Linked DNA regions of Homo sapiens. The protein of the gene in region 1 interacts with the protein of each later gene in a biochemical or structural test. Each region holds a gene or a part of one and is shown in the gene's direction. Other genes may lie near its edges. The genes, in order: PAFAH1B1, DCX, NUDC and NDEL1.

Region 1 (7,026 bases):
GGAAAGAACTTACTAAGAGTAGCAGCCTTAGAGGGACCAAGACAAATTCACTGCCCTTCTCTAATTAGTAGAGGACTCTGTCACCAGATACAAATCGAAATTTTTCTTTTTGTTAAAGAGTTAAGGCAATTGTACTGAATTTTTCTCAATTTTTAGTTTCCTCACATGACTTAGATTTTGATGCTGTACAAAATAAATAATTTTCATTTAAATTTGACAAATGCTTTGGAGATTACTGAAATTTTTTCAAGTATCCTACATACATAGTTGCAAAATAAAGGCAGTTTTTTAAAATGTCACATGCTATTTTTATTGAAATCTATCTGTACGTAACTACATGTTCTTTTTCAAGGTTATGGAATTAGAATCAAAGCTAAATGAAGCAAAAGAAGAATTTACGTCAGGTGGACCTCTTGGTCAGAAACGAGACCCAAAAGAATGGATTCCCCGTCCGCCAGAAAAATATGCATTGAGTGGTCACAGGAGTCCAGTCACTCGAGTCATTTTCCATCCTGTGTTCAGTGTTATGGTCTCTGCTTCAGAGGATGCTACAATTAAGGTAATTTTTTGTTAAAAGCAGACTTAACGGGAGGCTGAAGCAGGAGAATGGCATGAACCCGGGAGGCGGAGTTTGCAGTGAGCCGAGATTGCACCACTGCACTCCAGCCTGGGCGACAGAGCCACACTCTGTCTCAAAAAAAAAAAGCAGACTTAATAGGGTGAAGAAAATTAAAAGATCCTGAAAATGAGGGCCTATGAAGAGGGACAGGAGGTACTCTGAAACGTGTGATTTGGTTCTAAATCTTAAAAGACAGAATTGGAATAAAATATCATTGTGGCTCCTGAGAGGCATGCTGCCAGGTAAGTTTGATGGTGAATTTGAGAAAGTCGGGTGTCACTAACTGAGTTGATGTCAGTACATCACCTTGTGCTTGAACAATTTTTGTTCTTGGAGAATGAAAAGTGTGTGTCTTACCTTTAAACGGAGGTTATGTGTGAAATACTGATTGACAAAACTAGTAATTGATAGGGTGAATCTATACTGCAAAAGAATTCAGTAGAGGATTCATTTAAATTGGGCTTTCCTTGATGTATTTAAAATTGGCTTTCCAGGAGTGTGGGAATATACAAGCTTTTCATTTTATAAATTACGTATTTCATTAAAAAATTTTTTTCACAGTAAAAATATTATTACCTTTTAATGTTGTGCTTTTTTAATTAGGAAAAGAGTTGTTTTTAAGTTGCCTTTGTTCCGGACACAATAAAATGACCGTTGTATAAACCACCTACAGAAAGATAAGATAGTTGCAATATAGGTAGATTTAGGTAGATGCCTCTATCCTAAGGGTTATTTCAAAGTAAGTTACAGATATTAAGTTTCATTTACAAAAGTATAACCAATCGGCCGGGCACGGTGGCTCACGCCTGTAATCCCAGCACTTTGGGAGGCCGAGGCGGGTGGATTGCCTGAGCTCAGGAGTTCAAGACCAGCCTGAGCAACACGGAGAAACCCCATCTCTACTAAAATACAAAAAAATTAGCTGGGCATGGCAGCGTGCGCCTGTAGTCCCAGCTACTTGGAAGGCTGAGGCAGGAAATTCGCTTGAACCCAGGAGACAGGTTGCAGTTAGCCAAGATCGCTCCACTGCACTCCAGCCTGGGCGACAGAGCGAGACTGTCTCAAAAAGGTAGTTACAACTAACCAAATAGTAACGACGGTTTGGCCTTACTACTAACAGCAGAAGAAATAAACACTGAAATTATGGGCCGGGTGTGGTAGCTCATGCCTATAGTCCTAGGACTTTGGGAGGCCAAGGTGGGAGGACTGCTTGAGCTCAGGAGTTAGAGAGCAGCCTGGGCAACATAGCAAGACCTCGTCTCTACTTAAAATTAGCCAGGTATGGTGGTGCATGCCTGTAGTCCTAGCTACTCAGGAGGCTGAGATGGGAGGATCACATGAGCCTGGGAGTTGGAGGCTGCAGTGAGCTATGATTGAGCCAGTGTACTCCAGCCTGGGCGAAGAGTGAGACCCTGTCTTAAAAACAAAAAAATTGGACTGGGCACGGTAGCTCATGCCTGTAATCCCAGCACTTTGGGAGGCCAAGGTGGGTGGATCATGAGGTCAGGAGATCGAGACCATCCTGGCTAACATGGTGAAACCCCGTCTCTACTAAAAAATACAAAAAATTAGCCGGGAGTGATGGCGGGCTCCTGTAGTCCCAGCTACTCGGGAGGCTGAGTCAGGAGAATGGCGTGAACCCGGGAGGCGGAGCTTGCAGTGAGCCAAGATCGCGCCACTGCACTCCAGCCTGGGCGACAAGAGTGAGACACACATACATATATATGTGTGTCAAATTGTCAAGGTATTTTACCTATTAAATAAGAATTCCCAGTGATGATAAGATTTTGATAAAGTAGTCATTCTCATTACATATGATACAGTCTTACGGGATATCAATTTAATAGAGTATATGAAGGCTTTAAAAGTTTATACTTTTTGACCCACTAATTGTTTCTCCCCATTACTGTCTGACCTAGGTATTATAAAATGAGGACAGAATTTTTTTATATTAAAAAATGTTCACTATAATGTTTTCTATAATAGTGATTTAGCCAGCAATTAGAATTTTTTTTTTTTTTTTGAGATGGAGTTTCACTCTTGTTACCCAGGCTGGAGTGCAGTGGTATGATCTTGGCTCACTGCAGCCTCCGCCTCCCAGGTTCAAGCAATTCTGCCTCAGCCTCCCGAGTAGCCGGGAGTACAGGCGCCCACCACTGTGCCTGGCTAATTTTTTGTGTTTTTTAGTAGAGACGGGGTTTCACCATATTAGCCAGGATAGTCTCGAACTGACCTCGTGGTCCGCCCGCCTTGGCCTTCCTAAGTGCTGGGATTACAGGCGTGAGCCACTGCGCCCGGCCATATTTCATTTTTTAACTCAAAATGACATATGCTCTTGTTCATTTGCTATTCGTGAACAGTTAACATCTTCTGAAATCTTTCCTTGGCCCTTTAGATGTCTGAGTTCTGATGGTCTAGTAGGATCGAGTATTCATCCATTGTTCCTCAAATATTCTACATACAAATGCCTGCTATAGCCCTCTGAAGCTCCTTCCCTTCCCCTTCCCTTTCCCCTTTCTTTCCCTTTCCTTTCCATCTCTTTCTCTTTCTTTCCTCTTATTTCTTCCCCTTAAGTTTCCTTATTTACATGTCATTCCTGCTCTGAGACAGGGAGCGGACTATGTCTTGTGACTTTATATACCTTATCACTATTACAGTTGGTTATGTGATAGAAACCTTATAAATGTGGTTCTAGAGATAGATTTTAATAATTGCAACATTAGTTTTCCCTGTAGAAAAAAAGACCAATTTATACATGAGATACAATATTTCTAAAATAGTTATCCTTTGTTACTTGTTCGGTTAGTTACTCAGTAAGGTGCCAGACTGGCCTGCTGAGTGCAAATGTGAAACAAGAAAGGAGTGATGGAGTTGGTGTTAACCAATTTTCTGTTCACTTGACAGGTGTGGGATTATGAGACTGGAGATTTTGAACGAACTCTTAAAGGACATACAGACTCTGTACAGGACATTTCATTCGACCACAGCGGCAAGCTTCTGGCTTCCTGTTCTGCAGATATGACCATTAAACTATGGGATTTTCAGGGCTTTGAATGCATCAGAACCATGCACGGTAAGGGGTAGAGGATAGTGCTTTAACAGTAATTTCTATCATGGTACTTCAGAAGGAATATTGTTTCTAACAGTGTACAGTGTTCCTTTATTCACCTCTTAATTGTCAGTATTGGTGGAAGAGCATACCATGTAGATAGTCCAGGGATAAGCCACAGTAGTTGAGAGTGCTTTCTATTAGGAAGTTTTAAGTATCTTTTAGTACTTTACATAAAATATTTGTATGAGTATTTCTTGGTAAGAAAAACTGCCAGGTCATTTATCTGTATTTGAGTTAAAAATGGTTTTGTTTGTGTTTTAATTTTTGTTAGTTGGGAAACTGAAGTCCAGAGAGAGTAGGTCGAGTGAAAACGAGCCCAGATTCTCTTGCTCACTTAAGTGAAATGAGCTGAGCGCACAGACCCCATGCCCTCGTTCATTATTTCCCGGGTCTTGTTGTGGGAACTGTTTTCTGAGGCAGTATGTTTTGTGGAAAGAGAGTAATTTGCTTTGGAGTCAGACACCTGGGTTCAAATTCCTACTTGTCTACTTACGGTATTAGAAAATTTAAACCTCTTTCATCTGCAAAACAGAGGTAATAATACCAGAGTCATAGAGTTGTCATGAGGATAAGATGAAGTCATAAGATAAATCATCTTGGTGTAGTACCTGCCACATAGGAGATGCTCATTACTTAGGGATTTTTGTTGTTTCTTTATACATGATGACATTTGAATGTTGGGATTTTGTACAAGGAACACGTTAACACATGAGTAAACTGTGTTTACCTAGAGGGCATAATTTGAAGGTTGTGTTTTCTCTGTCCCAAATTAAATGCATTGGGGAAGTTTATAATTACAGGAATTCCACGCATGAACACTGTTTTTTTGTTGTTGTTTTTTGGTTGTTTTTTTTTTGAGACTGTGTCTCACTCTGTCGCCCAGGCTGGAGTGCAGTGGCACAATCTTGGCTCACTGCAACCTCCGCCTCCCAGGTTTAAGTGATTCTCCTGCCTCAGCCTCCTGAGTATCTAGGATTATAGGCACGCGCCACCACGCCCGTCTAATTTTTGTATTTTTAGTAGAGACGGGGTTTCACCATGTTGGTCAAGCTGGTCTCGAACTCCTGACCTCCTGATCTGCCTCAGCCTCCCAAAGTGCTGGAATTATAGGCGTGAGCCACGTAAGGTCTATCATTTATTTTTCTTTAAGTTGCCTGTATCTTCTAGCTGTAACTTTAAAAAGAGTTCTTTCTAATGCATTTTTTTTTTTTACCCCCAACACCACCTTTTTTTTTTTTTTTTTTTTTCTGGAGATGGCCTCTTGCTTTGTCACCCAAGCTGGAGTACAGTGGCACAATCTTTGCTCACTGCAACCTCCACCTCCCAGGTTCAAATGATTCTCCCACCTCAGCCTCCAAAGTAGCTGGCAATACAGGCAAGCACCACCACACCCGGCTAACTTTTTTATTTTTAGTAGAAACAGGGTTTAACCATATTGGCCAGGCTGGTCTTGAACTCCTGACCTCAGGTGATCCGCCCGCCTCGGCCTCCCAAAGTGCTGGGATTACAGGCATGAACCACTGCGCCTGGCCCACCATTTTAAACAGAGAACCAATTCCCCATTTTTTGTATCCATTTGCTTTATCTTTTTTATATCTTAGAATATCAACCTAGAAGCTAGGCACAGTGGCTCACACCTATAATCTCAGCACTTTTGGAGGCCAAGGCAGGAAGGATTGCTTGAGGACAGGAGTTCGAGACCAGTGTGAGCAAAATATGGAGACCTTGTCTCTACAAAAAATAAAATAGTTGTGGGTGTGGTGGTACCAGATGTGGTGGTACACACCTGTGTAGTTCCAGCTACCCGACAGGCTGAGGCGGGAAGAGCTCTTGAGCCCAGGAGTTCAAGGCTACAGTGAGCTATGATTGCACCACTGCACTTTAGCCTGGGTAACAGAGCAAGTCCTTGCCTCACAAAAAAAAAAAAAAAAAAAAAAAAAAATGTTTCCCTAGCGTTCATATGTAAACATTCAGACTCACTGAGGTAAGTATATGAATATATTCAAATGTTGATAATCGTGATGCCTTTTGTTTTTAAACCATTTGTACAGGTTGAAATTTAATCCTAAATGGAGTTGACTATTTCCTTGTGGGTTGTTGTTTTACTGATTTTTTTAACTTTATCGTGTAAATCCAGGTTTCTTATCCAATTTGTATAAAATCCAGTGTATTTAGAACTTGCTTTGACATAGTGAAACCCCATGGTAAAATCCCATGGTCAATTGATGTTTCATTGCTCTTGGTGGTATATTACTTCATAATATATTGCTGTTATGTGTTTTAGGCCATGACCACAATGTTTCTTCAGTAGCCATCATGCCCAATGGAGATCATATAGTGTCTGCCTCAAGGGATAAAACTATAAAAATGTGGGAAGTGCAAACTGGGTAAGTAAGTTTAGTTGAAAAGGCATCAGCGGCCAGGTGCAGTGGCTCACACCTGTCATCCCAGCGCTTTGGGAGGCCAAGGTGGGCAGATCACCTGGTCAGGAATTGAAGACCAGCCTGGCCAACATGATGAAACCCCATCTCTACTAAAAATACAAAAATTAGCCGGGTGTGGTGGCGCACACCTGTATTCCCAGCTACTTGGGAGGCTGAGACAGGAGAATCACTTGAACCTGGGAGGTGGAGGTTGCAGTGAGCCGAGATCGTGCCATTGCACTCTAGCCTGGGCAACAAGAGTGAGACTCCGTCTCAAAAAAAAAGAAAAGGCATCAGCTTAAAGACATATTTATAAAAAACAAAATTGTGTTCTGGTGTTGCAGTCACTTCGACTTTAACCCGGAATGATCATTATGACAGTCATATTAAATATACTTTAAAACTAAGTTTGATCTGTACATGTCTCCCAAAAAGGAGCACAGAGACATTGTAAGGAGAGACTCTATGTCCTTGAGAAGCATTTCTGTGTAATGGCTTATTTCCTCTGTGGTCTTCTTTTAGGTGATCTCTCTGTGGGTTTAAATTAAAGTGTAAATAATCTTTGGCCGGGCGCGGTGGCTCACGCCTGTAATCCCAGCACTTTGGGAGGCAGAGGCGGGCGGATCATGAGGTCAGGAGATCGAGACCGTCCTGGCTAACACGATGAAACCCCGTCTCTACTAAAAATACAAAAAATTAGCCGGGCGTGGTGGCGGGCGCCTGTAGTCCCAGCTACTCGGGAGGCTGAGGCAGGAGAATGGCGTGAACCTGGGAGGTGGAGCCTGCAGTGAGCCGAGATCGCGCCACTGCACTCCAGCCTGGGCGACAGAGCGAGACTCCGTCTCAAAAAAAAAAAACAAAAAGTAAATAAT
Region 2 (7,026 bases), on another chromosome or scaffold:
ATTCTATATTATCAAATCAATTATACTGAGGATGCTTCCCTATTTTAAAATTGGTGGATATAACACATGTGATCAATTTGACCTAATACAGTGCTTTAAAGAACAGCTTCAAGGAGTGGTGATAATTAATGTGTTCCTCCTCAAGCCCCTCCCCCATTATCCAGCCCTCTCTCCTCACTCCTTTCATTCCCTGAGCAAAGGTGAGTTTAAAGCAGGCAGATCTCTAGAGTAACCAAATTATGAAATAACTAACAAGGAAGGAGAAATAGCACCTTAAAGAATTTGATGTGGGAAAAACCTGCCTCTGCTTCACTGCTTCTAAGTTTCTTGTGTTCCTAGACAAAGGAGAATGAGGGTTTCCTTTGTACAAGACACTAGTTCTCTCAAATAGCTGCTGTTGCCCAAGTTGTCAGGCAAAGTGATTGGGACCAGTTACTTATAAAAGACAGTGTCCATATTGTTGCTGCATCTGAGTCTCAAGGTTCAAGTTCGACTTCCTTCCTTTCTTTCTTTCTTTCTTTCTTTCTTTCTTTCTTTCTTTCTTTCTTTCTTTCTTTCTTTCTCTTTTCTTTCTTTCTTTCTTCCTTTCTTTCTTTCACAGAGTTTCGCTCTTGTTGCCCAGGCTGGAGTGCAATGGCATGATCTTGGCTCACCACAACCTCTGCCTCCTGCCTCAGCCTCCCAAGTAGCTGAGATTACAGGCATGTGCCACCATGCCTGGCTAATTTTGTATTTTTAGTAGAGGTGGGGTTTCTCCATGTTAGTCAGGCTGGCCTTGAACTCCCGACCTCAGGATCCACCCGCCTTGGCCTCCCAAAGTGTTGGGATTACAGGTGTGAGCCACTGTGCCTGGCCGAGATCTTTCTACATAGCTGACCTTGAAAACCAATGCCCAGGAAGCTTAGATTATTTCATCATGTGTTCAATGGACAGGCAGTGGTTAATCCTAGGCCCTTCCTGACCATCAAAGGACTGGCCATCCTGGAGCATGTCTTAAAATAAAGGAGAGTCACGGCAACTTTGAAGGGTTTGAAGCTAGGTCGAGGGAGCTGTCCAACAGAGTAATTGTTAGGGTGTCTGTCTTTTGTCACTGTAAAATCCACATCTCAGTCAAATTTCAGGGATTTCTCTGTAACAACTTTCACAGACAAAGCACCCTGTATCACCCAATATGTCCTCATTTCCATGAACTGTGATATTCTAAAGACCACAATAGACATTAGGAAAGAGTACTGAACCAAGTGACATTGTATTCAGACCAAGTATTAGAATATTCTTGTCTCTGATATAAGAGAGGCGTTATGCACAAAATTTCCCCAAAATCCATTTTTTACATGTTGATTTTTCTCCCTAGATATGTGTGTGTGTGTGTGTGTGTGTGTGTGTGTGTGTGCGTATTGATGTATCACGAGGGGCTGGTGATAATCTCTGTTCAACATAGGTAGGCAATAAATGTAACTTTGAAAAGACTGCAGCTTTCTATTCCCTTGATTACCTTTGAGTCATATTAGGTTGAACTCCTCTTATCTGTCACTCCTGGGTGCAGTAGTACTTCTTGGTGAATTCCTGGACTATGTGAAGTGTGAATAGGGCTCAGTTGCATTTGTTCACATGTCATGTACAACTACAAGGCACAGTGGACCTCAATACCCATTTAGTCCTTAGTACTGCCTATTCAGTCAAGAAAATTCAGGGCTATGTCTGGGATAGTGTTAAGAAATGTGATCAATTTTCCCACTGCCACAGAGCCAAATGGGAAAGGGCACTGGGATGAGGAGGATGAAGACAATGTGTCTTTTTCTCTCCTATTTTATATTTTAGAACTGCCCATCTGGGAATGGAGGACAGACTTCCCGGTGTGAAATATCAGGGTCATTGGGTTCTAGTCTTAGAGGCAGCAGATTATAATGAAAACAGAAGTCTTTGGACTCAGATTTGGTTGAAATTCAGGATCTGTCAGTGCTAGCCTGTAAGACCTTGAGGAAACCATCTAGATTCCCTAAGCCTCATTTTGTCATCTGTAAAGTGGGAATAATGGCTTTGAGGATTAAATAAGACAGTAGATATAAAGTGCATATTACTCTGCCTGGCACACAGTAGTGCTTAATAAAAGGTAGTTATTATTGTTTGAGTTATCCTAGTTTATAGCTGGTTAGCTACATGATCATAGGTTTGTTCTTATCATTAATGTGACTCATGTTAATTATTTTTAAAATAACTCTTTAAAAAAACAAACAACTGTATTAAGGTATAATTTGCATAACATGAAATTTACCCATTCAAGTGTACAATGATTTTTAGAAGATTTATCAAGTGGTGCAACCATCATCATAACATAATTTTGGACCATTTTCATTTCCTCAGAAAGAAACCCTATTCCAATTAGTTGTCACTGCATATTTTCTCCAATCTCTTCAGCTCTAGACAATGGTTAATCTACTTTCTGTCTCCACATATTTGCCTATTCTGCGCACTTCATATAAATTGAATCAAATACTATGTGGTCTTTTGTGCTTCTTTGACTTAGAATAATGTTTTCAAATTTTATCTATGTTGTTCCATGTATTGGCACTTCTTTCCTTTTTGTTGAAGGATGATATTTCATGTATATGTAGACCACCACATTTGTGTATCTCTTGTGAATAATATTTTTAACTGTAAAATGGGACTAGTAACACCTGCCTTCTCTATCCATTAGGGTGGTTGTAAGGTTAAACTTAGATAATAGATATGGAAACATATTGACAAGGTAAAATTATAGCTACAGGTACTATTATTATTAATGATGTGAAAATACTAATAATGGAAATAATAATAATAATGATTATGACAATGATTATGTTAGTAAGGGATTGTAATGGTCAGTGGTTTCCAAACCCGGCTGCCTTTCAAAATCTTTCAGAGCTTTAGAAAAATATTACATTCCTGGGCCACACCCAAGATCTATTGAATCAGAATCCCCAGGGCTAGGGCCCCAGTGTTTGTGTTTTTACAAATCTCCTCACATGACTTTTATGAGCACTTAGACTTGGGAAGTATTAGACTGGGTGATCTTGATGGTTCCATTCACCTAACTAAAGTGGTAGGAGTTTTGAGACGTGCAGAAATCTGTTTTAATTTTTTTCTTTTTACATCTTAAAGGAATAATAGAGCATAGAACACACTGTGTTTTCAAATGGCCACATTATTACATTTTTAGCCTAAAAATAAATGAAATTTAAAAATAATTGGTTAATAATCACTCTGGCCTTGTGACACTCCTTTGTCTAGTGCCTCTTGTCTACGGTTTTCTGCTAGATACAGAAAGTATCAAGGGAAGCATTTTGGATCAAAGGTTATTGATGTCAGTTTTCCCACAGTCCTTGGGTACACCGAGGGTCTTAGTGAAGCCATGTAGGATATGGTCCTCATTAGCTGTATCCCAAGGAGGTCAATGAATAAAATCCACTGGTGGGTTTTCCTTTTGTCATGTCTTTGTTTTTTTTATTATTTTTTTATTTTATTTATTTTTTTTAGAATCTTTCTCTTTCCCTTTATATCTGGTCCAATTCTTTCCCCATTTTCTTGTATGTAAGTATCCAGATCAACCTTGGGGATATCATTTATGACTAGCCAGCTTTTCTGAACCCAAATTGAGACAAGTTCAAGAGTTATTACACAGACCATGGGACAGAATATTTACAATTGGAACAGTCTTAGAAAATCCGAGCTGTGTAGTCACACTGGCTATGATCCAGTTCTTTTACCATAGCTCATATGTTTCATTGAGATGAATCCACCTTCTCACTAATTTATTCTCTAACTACTAAAGCAAGTACATTGTCAAACACAAGAATTTTAAGATACCTGGGAGGGATGCATTGCTAATAGATATGATAATCAAATGTCATTTAATATTTTAATATAATACAGTAAAGTGTCATTTAATATATTCCTTCTTGAGTCAGGAAGCCCTGGAGAAGAGGAGAAAACCCAGGCAGAAGCTTGCTTTTGCACTGAGAAGATACAAATATATATAAAATGCTTTTGAAAATGCAGCCTTCTTAAAGAGAAGGGAGGTAGACATTAGATCATCTCCAGCCCACAGCTTGTTTCATTTCTGCCCTTTCAGCTGTGCTTCCATGATTTCATTCCTTATCCCCTCACCCTAAAGCAGGTTTTTAGTTCCAGCGAATTTGCACCCTGCTTGGCTGTGAAGCCAGCTTTCCCTCTAGGCCCCCAGCTGGTAGGAAATAGCCCTTGGAAGCTGTGGCAGGATGGGAACCCAACTGTGTAAAGGTGCGACACACCTCATCCAGCTCCAAGTGCCAGGCAGCAGGAAGTGCAGGAGGCACTGAGCTCTGGCAGCAGACATTGAAAATGCTGGCAAAATCAGGACAAGGAAGTCTTAGTCTAGCAAAGAAGAGCATTTGATGTCTTTCTAGCAGAAGTGAAGAGTCCTTGGAGGTGGGCAGCTATTTTCTTAACATTTAATTATCCTAACAGCTTTGTTTTCTGAAGCCTGTTTGAGAAGGAAAAGAGAAGATTCCTCCCTATAGACTCTAGGACCTAGAAGGGACTCAGGTGTCACCTAGTGCATTATCTTTGCTTTAGAGAAGGCAAAGCTGAGACTCAGAGACATTAAGTGATTTCCCTGAGGTCACACAGCTTTTAAGTGCCTAGTTGAGATTTGAATCCAGGTCTGTGTGACTCCTAAGTCATCACTCTTGACGACGATAAATATCCTGCTCTCAGCGGGCCTCTGCAGAGGCAGCAGCAGCTTTACTGGGTGTTAGCATAAATCTCCTACATTTGGCATTTGCCACAACTGGAAGCCTCCTTCCAACCAGCAGGAAATCTTATCCTTGAATCACAGGCCCCCAGCAGTGCTCATGTCATATCATAATCACAGCTCAGTTCCTAGATGGTTGCCCTTGATACTTTCTCTTTTTTTTCCTCTTCAGCTTCTATTCCTCTTTTTAGTCTCTTTCTCTCAGCAATTTTTTCCTCTTTTCCTCTTTGCTCTTTCCTTCTTGTTCTCGCTTCTATTCCGTAAGATTAGGGGCTTAATAATAACAGAAATTTATCAAGTGCTTACTATGTTCCAGGCTCTGGGATCAGCATTTTATTTTATTTTATTTTATTTTATTTTATTTTATTTTATTTTAAGACGGAATCTCACTCTCTCCGTCACCCAGGGTAGAGTGCAGTGGTGCGATCTCAGCTCACTGCACCCTCTGCCTCCCAGGTTCAAGCGATTCTCCTTCCTCAGCCTCCCTAGTAGCTGGGATTATAGGCATGTGCCACCACGCCCAGCTAATTTTTGTATTTTTAGTAGAGATGGGGTTTCACCATGTTGTCCAGGCTGCTCTTGAACTTCTGATCTCAAGCGATCCACCTGCCTCAGCCTCCCAAAGTGTCAGGATGACAGGCATGAGCCGTCGCACCTGGCCATGGGTTGAACACTTTTTATCCATCATCTGATTTGTGCCCCACAACAACCCCACAAGATAGGTATTCTTATTATCACCCTTGCTTTGCAAAGAAGAAACTGAAGCCAAGGGAGGTTAGAGTGCACAACTAGGAAGTGTTGGGGACCCCATCCTGACTGACATCACATCAGCTGCGCTTTTTCCATTACTCCATATTCAGCCCAACGAGAGAGTGGAGTGACTAAAATGTACCACTGGAAGGTGCTCAACATAGATTTGGCTGAGGCTGGGCCCTCTGGAAAGTTCTTGGGTGCTATATGATACTATAGCTGTCAGTCATCATGTTCATTTTCATCTGGAGACGGTTAATCATACTCATACTCCAGAGGCTTAAGAGGTTTAAGAGATGGGAGCAAAAAAGTCCAAAGTCCTAATAGGGCTACACAGCTGACTCTCCAGAGGAGACTGGATGAGTGAAATCATAAATATATAGCTTCACACATTTCCACACCACCATTTGTCTGACAGTTTTAAAGTACATGACAAGTTATGGAAAACATCTGACTCAAAGGCAGTGACCTCCTGCAAGGTGCCAGTGAATCTGGTGAACTGCTAAGTCAAGAGACCATTTCTAGGGTTATGGGGGTTATTGGCTGTGAATATATGGAGACACTAAAAGGGCCCCTTCCTTCATCCTTTTAAGTCAAAAATTAAAGACCCCAGCCTATAATTACTTGGGTTGGGTTGAATTAACCAGCAAGGGAGTCAAAGAAATCAGAGCTTCTCTTGGCTGAGGTATTGACCATCTCATCCTGGGTGTCCATGTATGCACCAAGTGGGTAAGGGTGCCTATCCTCACTTAAAACCATCCCTTTGTCCCCCTGTCAAGATAGAACTCTGGGACTGAGGGCAGCTTTGGAAGTCACTTTGCTTATGTTGGATGCCACTTACCCTCCCCCTCCGCACACACACACACACACACACACACACACACACACACACCACGCACACACACACACACATACACACACACATAAATGTCCTCAAAGGTACACTAGAGATTTTGACTGAAACTTCTCTTAGCATTACTGAGAAATTTATTCATTAACATGTCTTAAAGGATTTGGTGCTATGGCAAAGCAATAAATATTTGCAAAGGGAGTGAATTATCAACCTGGTGTTTCTGAATGCAGTTCTCCTGCTGAGACCAAAGGAGAGCCATCAGACTATAATTGTGTTTAATGCTTTCTGTGCACTGGCTAGGGTTTATTTATTTATTTAGGGTTATTACCGATGACTTAAGCCTGATTAAATCACACTGTTTCTGCAGCTCAACCTCTCAATGAACTTCTAGATACCTTGAGGCTAATGTGTTTTACTCAACGAATTCAACCTTTTCCAGTATTCTCTTCCCCAGGCTGAGCCTATCTCTCTTCCTATTTTCTTCAGCTCATAGTCCCAGGTGTCCAGTCCCCTCCTCTTGCCTCTGATCCCTGCATTTCTTTTGCGATATTAGTCATTTCCTCTAGCCCAAGGTAAATGTGAAAATTACACTAGATCCTTCCAATCCATAAATCAGGCTGTATAATGTATTCTCACTTCTTTACCTCATTAC
Region 3 (7,026 bases), on another chromosome or scaffold:
AGTTCTGCCTTAGAGATGCTTGAAAGAGGGTTTATTGACCACTGATCACATGGCAAGTGCCCTGCAAGGCCTCTAGGGGTATGTGCGTATGTGTGCACATGCACACTGTGTATGGGTTGGCATTGAGTTGAGTGTCCTAAGGGTATGTTCCTGGCCAGAGGTGAAACTTTGACACTTGACTGGTCATGGAGGATGAATTGGTTTGCCAGGTGACCTGAGAATGGGGATGAGACATTCTAGGCAAAGAACAACACATGCCAAGATTGCTTTTATTTATTTTGAGACAGGGTCTCCCTCTGTTACCCAGGCTGGTGGCGCGATCTCTGCTCACTGCAACCTCTGCCTCCCGGGTTCAAGTGATTCCCCCACCTCAGCCTCCCAGGTAGCTGGGACTACTGGCGTGTGCCACCACACCGGGCTCATTTTTGGATTTTTAGTAGAGACAGGGTTTTACCATGTTGGCCAGGGTGGTCAAGAACTCCTGACCTCAGGTGATCTGCCCGCCTCAGCCTCAAGTGATCCACCTGCCTCATCTTCCCAAAGTGCTGGGATTACGGGCATGAGCCACCACACCTGGCCAAGACTGTTTTTAGAGATAATAACTTAGACCAGGCATAATGGCTTACACTTGTAATCCCAGCACTTTGGGAAGATGAGGCAGGTGGATCACTTGACCCAGGAGTTTGAGACCAGCCTGGGCAACATGGCAAAACCTTGTCTCTATAAAAAAATACAAAAATTAGCCAGGCATGGTGGCATGTACTTATAGTCCCAGCCACTGGGGAGGCTGAAGTGGGAGGATCACCTTAGCCCAGGGAGGTCGAATGCATTCCAGCCTGGGTGAGTGAGACCATGCCTCAAAAATAATAATAATAATAACAAGATAGAGGCACAGAGACATGACCTCAGGGTCACGCAGGTAAGAGTAGACCAGGAACTCAAATCTAGGTGTGATTTTGAAGTATGCATGGAAATTGGCCAGGAGGGCTTGTTAAAAATACAGATTGCCTGGCCATACCCCAGAATTTCTGATCCAGTAGATCTGGAGTGGGGCTTAAGATTTAGCGTTTCTAACAGGTTCCAGGTGATGCTGATGCTGCAGGTCAGGGGAACCCTGTGATGTGGACCTCACTAGGCTCTTGATTTGTGCTGTCATACTCAATCCTCATGACGGATAAGGAAACAGGCTTAGAAAGAGTCAAAGTTGTTCACTTGTCTAAGGCCAGGAGCCAAATAATGACAGGTGGCAATAGTATGGGTGGAGGGTTGTCCTTGGGTAGCAGGGAGGCTGGCTAGCACATCCTGGAGTGGAAACCTCCTGGGAAGGTGTAGTGGAGAAAAAGGATTTGAAGTTGATAGCTTGCTTGCTGGAGAGAGGGTGAACAGGCTCTTCCTTCAAGAAAGCTCCCTGGCTTTGACCTGGCGCGGTAGCTCATACCTATAATCCCAGCACTTTGACCGGGCACGGTGGCTCACACCTATAATCCCAGCACTTTGGGAGGCTGAGGCAGGCGGATCACTGGAGGTCAGGAGTTCGAGACCAGCCTGACCAACATGGAGAAACCCCATCTCTACTAAAAATACAAAATTAGCCAGGCGTGGTGGCACATGCCTATAATCCCAGCTACTCGGGAGGCTAAGGAAGGAGAATCACTTGAACCCGGGAGGCGGAGCTTGCAGTGAGCCAAGATCACGCCACTGCACTCCAGCCTGGGCAACAAGAGTGAAACTCCATCTCAAAAAAAAAAATTAAAAAAAAAAGCTCCCTGGCTTTCTGCTAACGTGTCCTTTTTGGGTGTGGTGTCAAGTCTTGCATAGCTGGACTGTGGTCTTGGAGACAGGATGCACTAAGAGTAAGAGTGATTAGTCAGAGGAGTGGGCCTGAGAACTCAGGAAAGGCTTGTGAGGGACTGAGGCTTGAGTTTTTACTTTAAACAGCGCCACTTTTTTTGTTTTGGTTTTTTTGAGACAGAGTCTCGCTTTGTCACCCATGCTGGAGTGCAGTGGCCTGATCTCAGCTCACTGCAACCTCCACCTCCCTAGTTCAAGCAATTCCCCTGCCTCAGCCTCCTGAGTAGCTGGGATTACAGGCGCACGCCACCGCGCCTGGCTAATTTTTTTGTATTGTTAGTAGAGACGGGGTTTCACCATGTTGGCCAGATTAGTCTCCAATTCCTTTATTTATTATTATTATTTTTTTTTGAGATGGAGTCTTGCTCTGTCACCAGGCTGGAGTGCAGTGGCACGATCTCTGCTCACTGCAACCTCTGCCTCCCAGGTTCAAGCGATTCTCCCACCTCAGCTTCTCGAGTAGCTGGGATTACAGGCCCCCGCCACCATGCCCAGCTTTTTTTTTTTTTTTTTTTTTTTTTGTATTTTTGGTAGAGACAGGGTTTCACCATGTTGGCCAGGATGGTCTTGACCTTGTGATCCACCCTCCTCAGCCTCCCAAAGTGCTGGGATTACAGGTGTGAGCCAGCGCGCCCGGCCAAGCATCACTTTTTAAAACAGCCAGTTTATTGAGACAGGTGCTTTGCAGGTATTGTCATTACAACCCTATGAGATAGATGTATTTTCCTCATTTTGCACATGAGGAAACCGAGTTTCTGGGTGCAGTGCTTTGCCCTTGCACCCAGCAGGTAGAGAGTGGGGCTGGACTCCAGGCTGTGGGACACTGTCCCCTGCTCTGATGCCTCATGGCCTTTCTTCCCTCTCCAGCTTATCACACAGACTTTCAGCCACCACAATCAGCTGGCACAGAAGACCCGGCGGGAGAAGAGAGCCCGGCAGGAGGCCGAGCGGCGGGAGAAGGCGGAGCGGGCGGCCAGACTGGCCAAGGAAGCCAAGTCAGAGACCTCAGGGCCCCAGATCAAGGAGCTAACTGATGAAGAGGCAGAGAGGCTGCAGCTAGAGATTGACCAGGTGAAGGGTGGGCTTCCCTTCTCCACCCCTCAGATCCCCCCTGGCACTGAGCAGTGGGGTCCTGTTGCCAACTGCTGTGCTCTTTGCCCCAGAAAAAGGATGCAGAGAATCATGAGGCCCAGCTCAAGAACGGCAGCCTTGACTCCCCAGGGAAGCAGGTGAGATGGACTGCAGGGACTTGGGATGAGCCAGGAGCTTGGAACTTACAGGAAATCTCCTGCCTACTGCTTTCTCTGGAATACCCTTCCTTATCCTATCCCCTCCCCTCCTGGCTTTGGGAATCTTCCCCATACTTTAAGATCACACTCAGAGACATTGAACCAAAGGATCCAGGTTAAAAAAATAAAAACCTGCCAGGCGCAGTGGCTCACACCTGTAATCCCAGCACTTTGGGAGGCCGAGGTGGGTAAATCACGAGGTCTGGAGTTCAAGACCAACTTGGCCAAGATGGTGAAACCCCATCTCTACTAAAAATACAAAAATTAGCCAGGCATGGTGGTGGGCGCCCGTAATCCCAGCTACTCGGGAGGCTGAGGCAGAGAATTGCTTGAACCCGGGAGGCGGAGGTTGCCATGAGCCGAGATCACGCCACTGCACTCCAGCCTGGGCGACAGAGCAAGACTCCGTCCCAAAAAAATAAAATAAAAACCGACTGACCTTAACCTGTTTATGGCAAGAAAACCCAATAGCCAGAGAGGGCAGTGCCTATTACAGGTCCCATCTGAGGTTGGCTGGGTTCTGTGGGCCCAGCCATATCCTTTGTCACATGGTATAATATTAATAGTCTGAGCTCCTCTCAGACTGAGATCAGAACCAAGTTTTACCTGGTTCCCAGTGGACCAAGGCTTGGGGGTCTGCCCCTCTGTGGAGTGGGCAGGGACCAGGTCTGTTTTCTTTTGTGGCTGTATGCCCAGTGCTAGCCCTGGGCTTGGCCCAGTGAGGGTTCAATCTGTGTCTTGTCTGTCAAGTAAGTAGCTGAGTGTCCCTGATTGTAAGCAGGATACTGAGGAAGATGAGGAGGAAGATGAGAAGGACAAAGGAAAACTGAAGCCCAACCTAGGCAACGGGGCAGACCTGCCCAATTACCGCTGGACCCAGACCCTGTCGGAGCTGGACGTGAGTGTCAGGGACCAGAGGTAAAGCTTAGGGGGCCAGCCTGGGGTACCAGCAGCACTTAGTGGCCTCTTCTGACTGCCTCTGCCCTATGCAGCTGGCGGTCCCTTTCTGTGTGAACTTCCGGCTGAAAGGGAAGGACATGGTGGTGGACATCCAGCGGCGGCACCTCCGGGTGGGGCTCAAGGGGCAGCCAGCGATCATTGATGGGGAGCTCTACAATGAAGTGAAGGTGGAGGAGAGCTCGTGGCTCATTGAGGACGGCAAGGTGGTGACTGTGCATCTGGAGAAGGTATGTGAGGCCCAGCCCTTCTAGCCTGGGGTGTTGATGGAAGTAGAAGGGAGGATGTGTGCTTAGTTTACTCAGGAGCCATGCTGGGGGCATTGTGGGATTATCTTAATCCCCATGACAACACTCTTTAAAGTAGATCTGTCTCTATTTTATTTTCTTAAAGACAAGGTCTCACTCTGTTGCCCAGGCTGAAGTGCAGTAACACCTTCTTAGCTCACTGCAGCCTTGAACCCTTGGGCCCAAGCAATTCTCTCGCCTCGTCCTCCTGAGTAGCTAAGACTACAGGTGTACACCACCACGCTCGGCTAATTTTTGTTATTAAATTTTTTTGTAGAGACCGGGGGGTCTCACTATATTTCCCAGGCTGGTCTTGAACTCCTGGCCTCAAGTGATCTTCACACCTTGGCCTCCCAAAGTGCTGAGATTACAGGCTTGAGTCAGGAAAAGAGCTCGTTGATTTACCCAAGCTCCTACCTCTGGGAAGGGGTGGAGTCAGAATTGAAAGTCTTAGTTTCTAAAGCCACTTCTTTTTCACTAGGTTTGTACATGCATTCAATTCATCAAATACTTGAACACCTGCTCTGTGCCTGGTACTGTTCTTGTTCTAAGTGCTGGAAAGAGAACAGTGAACAAAACATAGGAAAATATGTGCCCTCAGGAAGCCTTCATTCTCAACCTCACTGCCTTTACAGAGAGGTAGGACACAGAGATCAGTAAATAAAGGTGGTCTGAAAAGGGCCAAGGGTCTGAGGAGAACTTCCCAGGGCACATAAGACCCTGTAACAGCCTGTCCGACTGGCACTGGCTGCCTTCACTCACTCACCCCTCCATGCCTCTGCACTTGCTTTGTCGCCCAGGCTGGAGTGCAGTGGCGCGATCTCGGCTCACTGCGAGCTCCGCCTCCTGGGTTCATGCCATTCTCCTGCTTCAGCCTCCAGTGTAGCTGGGACTACAGGCGCCCGCCACCATGCCTGTATTTTTTTTTTTGTCTGTTTTGTTTTCTATTTTTTAGTAGAGACAGGGTTTCACCGTGTTAGCCAGGATGGTCTCGATCTCCTGACCTTGTGATCCGCCCACCTCGGCCTCCCAAAGTGCTGGGATTACAGGTGTGAGCCACCATGCCCAGCCCTTTCCCTGCCTTTTAAATTTATTTTTTATTTTTTGAGACAGGGTCTTGTTCTCACCCAGGCTGGAATGCAGTGGCGCAATCACGGCTTACTGCAGCCTTGACCTCCCGGGCTCAAACGACCCTCCCACCTCAGCTTCCTGAGTAACTGCGAGCGCCACCCTACCTGGCTAATTTTTAAATGTTTTTTGTAAAGACAGGGTCTCATGTTGCCCAGGCTGGTCTGAAACTCCTGGGCTCAAGGGATCTTCCTGCCTTGGCTTCCCAAAGTGTTGGGATTACAGGTAGGAGCCACTGCACCTGGCACTTCCCTGCTTAAAAACTTTTTCTGGCTGGGCGTGGTAGCTCATGCCTGTAATCCTAGCGCTTTGGGAGGCTGAGGTGGGCAGATCACGAGGTCAGGAGTTTGAGACCAGCCTGGCCAAGATGGCAAACCCCATCTCTAATAAAAATACAAAAAATTAGCTGGGCATGGTGGTGGGCGCCTGTAATCCCAGCTACTTGGGAGTCTGAGGCAGGAGAATCGCTTGAACCCAGGAGGTGGAGGTTGCAGTGAGCTGACTGCACCACTGCACATGGTGGCTCACACCTGTAATCCCAACACTTTGGGAGACTGAGGCAGGCAGATCATCTGAGGTCAGGAGTTTGAGACCAGCCTGGCCCAATATGGTGAAGCCCCGTCTCTACTAAAAATACAAAAATTAGCCAGGTGTGGTGGTGCATGCCTATAATCCCAGTTACTCGGGAGGCTGAGGCCGGAGAATTGCTTGAACCCGGGAGGCAGAGGTTGCAGTGAGCCGAGATGGTGCCACAGCACTCCAGCCTGGACAAGAAGAACAAGACTCCATCTCAAAAAATATATATATTTATTTTCTTCCCATTTTAAATCTGGAATACTGCTTTGTGTCTTAAGACTCAGCCCGAGTGTCACTTTCAAACTTTTCTCCCTCCACCCTGGATGAATATCTCCCTTTCTGCTTTCTTCTTTCCCTTATCACACTGATTTGTAACTCTTTGCCTCTGTGTCTCCCCTAGCTGCAGGAAGGGCACAGTCTTGTACCTCTGGATCCAGTGTAGGCCTGCAAGGGTCTCAGGTGCAGGATGTGGATGGGAGAGAGTTTGGTTGTGAAAGGGTTAAGGGGTGATTCCTGGTGCACAGAGCAGGCCACCTCCCACCCTCTGGTTGTTCTCTTCACAGATCAATAAGATGGAGTGGTGGAGCCGCTTGGTGTCCAGTGACCCTGAGATCAACACCAAGAAGATTAACCCTGAGAATTCCAAGGTGAGCCCTGGCTGGTTGGGGGAGCTTCAGCAGGAAGGTGAGGGGCCTCGTTGTTTCCAGAGCTTCACCGATTCCTGTCACTGCCTGCCCTCAGCTGTCAGACCTGGACAGTGAGACTCGCAGCATGGTGGAAAAGATGATGTATGACCAGCGACAGAAGTCCATGGGGCTGCCAACTTCAGACGAACAGAAGAAACAGGAGATTCTGAAGAAGTGAGCAATTCAGAGACGGGGTTGGGGGACCGTGGGTGCCTGGGGGCTTAGACTTCGGTGACAGCAGTGAGTGGATCA
Region 4 (7,026 bases), 5.8 Mb from region 1:
TTGCAGCAGTAGACGCTGGGGTCTAATGTGTTGAGTTTTATTAAAATGAGAAATATGTTTTTCAGGTGCTTAAGAGCAGCTGGCGACAAAAAATAGTTTGAAAAAAACGCTTAAAGTGAATTTTTGAATAAAATGTTTTCTTTCACGGAACCAGGGGAAAAGGTGGTTTAGAGTTTAGGAGTTCACTTAGAAACTTTGTAGTTGTCACTTTTCTAGCTATAATGTTCCTAGCTATATTATATTATAGTTCCTATAATTTTCAAAAGCTGCCTGATTATTTGTTTTGACAGATAGGTTGCCTCATTCTGCAGTATGTTTACAATTATATTGATAGGGAATATGCATTTATTTCATTATTGTTCATAGCCCTTTCAGTTTTGGAGTTTAGTTAGGGTTAAAAATTTCCCTTCTAAAAAGGAATTTTCAGGAGCAAAAGGATTCACCCCTTTCTCTGCCCTTTACCATCTACTGTAGCCACATGCTTGAGGGTATTTAGTGTCTGGGGAGTGGGTGGGTTCTGGGAAGGTTGGATGGGCAGGTGAAAGGTAGGGAATGTGAACTCTGTGCTTACCCTGGGCCGCATTTAGCCTGAAAATCCAGAGGTTTCCTTAACAAGTTTGCGGATTTTGAGGCAAGGATTTTTTATATTAGTTCTTTTCAGAGAGATTGTTATTGGGTTTCTTTCTGAGAGGAGAATGGTTGACAAAATTTAACATGAGTTTAGGCACTTAGAATGAATGTGTCATTTAGTTGTTTTTAAAGTAATTGTTACAAGAGTGTGGGTAAATTCCTTGGGTTCCCCCCCACCCTTTTAACTTGAGTTACCTCTTTAGTAAAGAGAACTGTATATTAATGACATGTACTTTCCTATACTGATGCCCTCAGGAGAAGCTAGAGCATCAATATGCACAGAGCTATAAGCAGGTCTCAGTGTTAGAAGATGATTTAAGTCAGACTCGGGCCATTAAGGAGCAGTTGCATAAGTATGTGAGAGAGCTGGAGCAGGCCAACGACGACCTGGAGCGAGCCAAAAGGTAAACGAATGACTGCATTTTGTTAGAAAAAAACCACCTTGGTAATTAGTGATTAAAATCTTTATTAGGCTCTTCCCCTAGATCTTAGTCCCAGAACATTTCCTGTTGGTGTTTCATGTCACCTGTAACTCATCGGACGGAAGGGAACCCCAAATCCTCATCTCCCAGATAACGCCCTTCAAAGCTTTCTCTTTCAATTTTTCTTTTTTCCTTCTTTCATATACTGTGGTTGATCCTATTGGTTTTGTTTTGTTTTTTGAGACAGGGTCTCACATTGTCGCCCAGTCTGGAGTGCAGTGGCATGATCTCGGCTCACTGCAACCTCTGCCTCCCAGATTCAAGCGATTCTTGTGCCTCAGCCTTCCAAGTAGCTGGGATTATAGGCATGTGCCACCACACCCAGCTAATTTTTGTATTTTTAGTAGAGACGGGGTTTTGCCATGTTGGCCAGGCTGGTCTTGAATTCCTGCCATCAAGTGATCTGCCCACCTTGGCCTCCCAAAGTGCTGGGATTATAGGCATGAGCCACTGCACCCAGCCTAGGTTTTGTGTATTTATTTATTTTTTAAACTGTCTCATGCATTCCCCCATCTTCCCTCTGTGCTCTTAACACTTCCATACTTCCTGTAGGTCCTCATATCTTATACCTGGATTCTGTAGTTATCCTCTAGCTGATATATCTTTATATTTCTGTTCCTTTTTATTCTCTTTTAATACTGACTGATGAATTTTCTTAAAATGTTGATTTCAGTTCAAATTTCTGAACAACGTGCAGTGGCTTGCTATCACTGTTGCCAAACTTTTATGCATGTGTAATTAGTTGTTTCTTAACCATTCCAAACTTAATTCCTATTACTTTATAATTGTTTCCTGGTATTTCCTTCCTTAATATTTATCCAGTGAGTCTTAAGTGACTGACATGATGCTAAACTTACAGATGCGGAGCTAGTCTGGTCACTACCCTTGGGGGTGACAGATATGTACATTCACTATGTTAATACCCTAGTAAAAAAAAGTGGGCAAGCTGCTGCTCCAGGGCATAGAGGAGGCAGCAGCCAGATTGGTTGCGGGGAGGTGGGCGGGGGGGGGGCAGTGGGGGAACCAATCAGAGGCTGAAGTGAAGTTACAAAGTGACACCCTATGCAAATGTCTGAGTGGTTGCAGAAAGCAAAGGGAATAGCTTCTGGTCCTTTTCTTACTTAGGTGTGGAAAGTTCCGGTTTTCCTTTTGATTTAGTTCTAGGAAGTCAGTGTGAATTGGCCTTAGGTTCCCTGACTTGGGACTTAATGTTTTAAACAAACTCTTACATATATTACAAGTTTTGAAAAGTTTTCTTTCTGAAAATGTGTAAACTTGATTGTATTGTGTTCAAAACACAGTGGAGATATAAATAGTGTAACAAATAGCCTTTCTGTAGGGAACATTAAGGAATAGATGGGAATTTAAAAGAATGTATTGTATATATTGCCCAACTGATAGAGACACTACGTGCCAGCAGTGGTCAGGAAGGGGCAAGATCATCTTCTTTGATTGGGGCCAGGCTGGCTAGGTCAGGAAATGTCACGAGATAAACTGACAGTTTCCTTTTGTACTATCTGTTTGCACATGTTATTTATTTAATTCATGTACTCTAATTTTTCTTTTTAGGGCAACAATAGTTTCACTGGAAGACTTTGAACAAAGGCTAAACCAGGCCATTGAACGAAATGCATTTTTAGAAAGTGAACTTGATGAAAAGGAATCTTTGTTGGTCTCTGTACAGAGGTTAAAGGATGAAGCAAGAGGTAAAATTTATAACTTAAAGAATACAGTTGACCCTTGAACAACATGGGTTTGAATTGTGTGGGCCCACTTATACTCTGATTTTTTTTCAACCAAATGTGGATTGAAAATACAGTATTCACGGCATTCAAAACCCTGTATATGGAGGGCTGACTTTTCATATATACGGGCTGACTGTGGGACTTCAGTATGCGCCAATTTTGGTGTAGGTGGGGGTCCTGGAACCAATCCCCATGTATACTGAGGGACAACTGTATTTATCCTCCCTTACCTTACTGTCCCTATGCCAGAAGAAGCTTAGAGTCAACTTTTTTTGGAGACGAAGTCTCGTACTTTCACCCAGGCTGGAGTGCAATGGCACAATCTCAGCTCACTGCAAATTCCGCCTCCTGGGTTCAAACAATTCTCCTGCCTCAGCCTCTCGAGTAGCTGGGATTACAGGCGCCCGCCACCACACCCAGCTGATTTTTGTATTTTTAGTAGAGACGGGATTTCACCATATTGGCCAGGCTGATCTCGAACTCCTGACCTCGTGATCCGGCCGCCTTGGCCTCCCAAAATGCTGGGATTACAGACGTGAGCCACCGCGCCTGGCCCCATCCAGCTAATTAAGAAAACATTTTTTTTGTGGAGACAGTCTCAGTATGTTGGCCAGGCTGGTTTTGAACCCTTGGCCTTAAATGGTCCTTCTGGTTCTGTCTCCCAAAATGTTGGGATTATGGGTGTGAGCCACTGTGCCTGGCTTCTTAATCATTTTAAAGTGTACAGTCCAGTAGTGTTAAGTATAGTCAAATTGTTGTGTAAACAAATTTTTAGAACTTTTTCATCTTGCAAAACTGAAACTATACCTATTGAATAGTGACTACCCATTTTCCCTTCCCTTCAGCCCCTGGCAACCACAGTTCTATTTTCTATGAGTTCAGCTACTTTAGATACCTCATATAAGGGAGATTATACAGTATTTGTGACTGGTTTATTGCATTTAGCATAATGTCCTCAAGGTTTATCCATGTGTAGTATGTGACAAAATTTCCTTCTTTTTTAAGGCTGAATGATACTCCATTGTATGTATTCATTTTCTTTATCTGTTCATCTGTGGATGGACATCGAGTTGCTCCCATCTCTTGCTATTGCGAATGATACCGCTGTGAACATGGGTGTCCAAATATCTCTTTGAGATCCTGTTTTGAATTCTTTTGGATACATACCCAAAAGGGGGATGACTTTGTTCCTTTTTTAACACAAGCAAATATTCTGTAAGTTAAATTGCATAATTGGAAAAGATAACATTAATTTTGGGTTAAAAACTCGACATTGGCTGGGTGTGGCGGCTCACGCCTGTAATTCTAGCACTTTGGGAGGCTGAGGCGGGTGGATCATTTGAGGTTAGGAGTTCGAGACCAGCCTGACCAACATGGTGAAACCCCATCTCTACTAAAAATTCAAAAAAAAAAATTAGCTGGGTGTGGTGGCGGGCACCTGTAATCCCAGCTACTTGGGAGGCTGAGGCAGGAGAATCGCTTGAACCCAGGAGGTGGAGGTTGCAGTGAGCCGAGATTGCGTCACTGCACTCTAGCCTGGGCGACAGAGTGAGACTCCGTCTCAAAAAAAAAAAAAAACGCTCAATATTTGAAAGCATGAGAAAAATTTAAACCGTTCTGAATACTTCTTTTCTAAAAGTAAATATTTCATAGTGATAATAGTTAATGCCAGCCCATTTAAAATTACAAAAATGCACTTAGTTGATTTTGCAATAACCCCAAAACTACATCATTTGAAAATAAAAGCAAATAAGTTGGTGAAGAATATTTACTTTTGTGTGAATTGTACTGTGGACTCTGCACTGTTTCTTTTTGCATATAAGCATAAGTAACTTCTCTCAGGTTATAGCATTTTTAAATTCTAAAAGATCATTTAGACAGTAGTTTTGCCATTTTTATTCCCCTAGAAATGAAAGTTATACTTAAATAGGAAATTCATTTTTGAGAAATAGTAATTTAGGAAGAAGACCTTTATGACATTTTAGATGTCACTTTGCTTGATATATTTGCTCCCTCTAGTGAGTATTCCTGCCCTTGTTTGCAATATTTTACAGATTTAAGGCAAGAACTAGCAGTTCGGGAAAGACAACAGGAAGTAACTAGAAAGTCGGCTCCTAGCTCTCCAACTCTAGACTGTGAAAAGATGGACTCCGCCGTCCAAGCATCACTTTCTTTGCCAGCTACCCCTGTTGGCAAAGGAACGGAGAACACTTTTCCTTCACCGAAAGGTTTGTAATGTCTTTTCTTTTTGAGGCGATGTGTTAGATGATCAGCTTACGGGGGTTTGTTGCTGAAGGCGGTTGCTAAGGTTTAAAGAGTAATTTTAGTTTAAAAGTTGGTGAAGTCTAGTGCTATGTGAAATAGAAGAAGGAATTGTTTTCCTAGGCCACTAATATATAGGAAACAGTGAAATGATGGTTACATTTAAGATGAGATTTTTAAAAGTTAAAGGTTTTTAAGGAAAGTTTATTTTTTGATGATAGCAATAGATTTTGTGATTACAGCCGTATGTTTAGGTAGAAAATTTTAAAAACACAGAAAAAGAAAATAAAAATCATGTTATCTTACCACTTACAGGCACCCACCATTAACATTTTGAGTTTTTTTTTCTATTGTGTGCTTGTGTGTGTTTGTGCACATCTCTTTGTCACATGCAAATTTGGGGATCATATTTAAACACAGTTTTATTTCTTCCTTTTGCCACTTTCCATATCATGGGAGACCTGAGGCCTTTCTACATAGAATGTACAGAGAATCATTAAGTTATCTTTCAGACTCATGTAAGACCGGCTTGGATGGACATGCCCATTCTGTTACATGCTTCAGGAGCTGCCATTTTCAAAAGCATTGTTCGGAGTAATTGATGATTGGCACATACAGAATACTCACATTGCCATGAACCAGTGTGTTTTTTTAAAATCCGGATAAGCAGAAAAACCACCTAGTAGCCACTAGATAGAACCTTAAAATGGAATCTTAAAGCTCTCAATTGAGATTTGTTTAGATTTTGCAGCTCGTAGTTCATATTTCTGCTACTCTCATCCCCCCTTGCTTTTTTTTTCCACCCTATATTGAAGCTGTCATCCCACCCTTTTTAAAATATAGGGTTTTATCTTTTAGAATGCTATGTGGGCAACTAGTACAGTGAGCTCTCTCTGTCTGTGCTACTCAATAGTCACCAGCCCATGTGGCTATTTAAATTTATATTAAAATGAAATAAAATATAAAATTCAGTTTCTTTGTCACATTAACCACATTTCAAGTGCTCAGTAACCCTTGAGTAGGTAATTCAACTTGTCTTTGCCTTGTTACGAGATGATATCAGATAAGGTATGTGAAGGTGCTGTATGGTTGTAAGGTGTTACTAATTGCGCTAGGTTTACTGCTGAGGACAAAGGGCAGGCAATAGATTATTAGCAGTCATCAGGAGCCCTCACGGTCAGTTTTTCAGAAGAGCTGCTTGTATATTTGAAGATTTCACAATTACACCTGAGGACTAACAAAGTTTTACTTTTATGTTACTGATTAGAATTATGCAGATCTGAAAATCCTTTAATTGAAGACGAATCAGAATAGTGAAAAGCCTCAGGTGCGGTGACACCCACAGGTGGTGCACATTTTTTTTTAATAGCCCGTTAGAGTTTTCATTCAGGGACTTGGGGAGTCAAAAGGACATGGAGCCTGCTGTGGCACGGCATGAGGTGTGCCAACCCTATGGCAGTAATATTTGCTTAATAGATATGTTTTTAGGCTGGAACCAATAGCATGAATTTTCACTGGCTAACCTAAAAGCTGCTGTGTACTAGATCACTGCAATTTCATTACAAGAAAGCACAGAGTTGTGAGCAGCAGCAGGTGGTCAGAGAAATCGGTAAGATCTTAGAGCTGATCTTTCTGAAGTGGTCTGTCTTTAATTGTATTTTACCTTTTACAATGTTTGTTTCTCTTTCTTTCTTTCTTTCTCTTTCTTTCTTTTTCTTTCTTCCTTTCTTTCTTTTCTTTTCTTTTTCTTCTCTTTTTTTTTTTTTTTTTTGACAGAGTTTTGCTTTTTTTGCCCAGGCTAGAGTGCAATGGTGCGATCTTGGCTCATTGCAACTTCCGCCTCCTGGGTTCAAGTGATTCTCCTGCCTTGGCCTCCCAAGTAGCTGGGATTACAGGTGTGTGCCACC

Evidence for each region.
Region 2: the proteins of PAFAH1B1 (region 1) and DCX form a complex in vitro, tested with the Homo sapiens proteins (2 studies listed by BioGRID).
Region 3: the proteins of PAFAH1B1 (region 1) and NUDC form a complex in vitro, tested with the Homo sapiens proteins (3 studies listed by BioGRID).
Region 4: the proteins of PAFAH1B1 (region 1) and NDEL1 form a complex in vitro, tested with the Homo sapiens proteins (3 studies listed by BioGRID).

Annotation. Positions count from the first base shown.
Region 1 is NC_000017.11:2,666,640-2,673,665, forward strand, and holds part of PAFAH1B1 (platelet-activating factor acetylhydrolase IB subunit beta), read left to right. Parts: intron 1-352; coding exon 353-559; intron 560-3,523; coding exon 3,524-3,692; intron 3,693-6,015; coding exon 6,016-6,118; intron 6,119-7,026. UniProt on the Homo sapiens protein: Regulatory subunit (beta subunit) of the cytosolic type I platelet-activating factor (PAF) acetylhydrolase (PAF-AH (I)), an enzyme that catalyzes the hydrolyze of the acetyl group at the sn-2 position of PAF and its analogs and participates in PAF inactivation.
Region 2 is NC_000023.11:111,402,170-111,409,195, reverse strand, and holds part of DCX (neuronal migration protein doublecortin), read left to right. Parts: intron 1-7,026. UniProt on the Homo sapiens protein: Microtubule-associated protein required for initial steps of neuronal dispersion and cortex lamination during cerebral cortex development. May act by competing with the putative neuronal protein kinase DCLK1 in binding to a target protein.
Region 3 is NC_000001.11:26,938,739-26,945,764, forward strand, and holds part of NUDC (nuclear migration protein nudC), read left to right. Parts: intron 1-2,718; coding exon 2,719-2,922; intron 2,923-3,014; coding exon 3,015-3,080; intron 3,081-3,921; coding exon 3,922-4,038; intron 4,039-4,132; coding exon 4,133-4,327; intron 4,328-6,651; coding exon 6,652-6,735; intron 6,736-6,829; coding exon 6,830-6,948; intron 6,949-7,026. UniProt on the Homo sapiens protein: Plays a role in neurogenesis and neuronal migration. Necessary for correct formation of mitotic spindles and chromosome separation during mitosis. Necessary for cytokinesis and cell proliferation.
Region 4 is NC_000017.11:8,445,869-8,452,894, forward strand, and holds part of NDEL1 (nuclear distribution protein nudE-like 1), read left to right. Parts: intron 1-885; coding exon 886-1,034; intron 1,035-2,681; coding exon 2,682-2,818; intron 2,819-4,911; coding exon 4,912-5,085; intron 5,086-7,026. UniProt on the Homo sapiens protein: Required for organization of the cellular microtubule array and microtubule anchoring at the centrosome. May regulate microtubule organization at least in part by targeting the microtubule severing protein KATNA1 to the centrosome.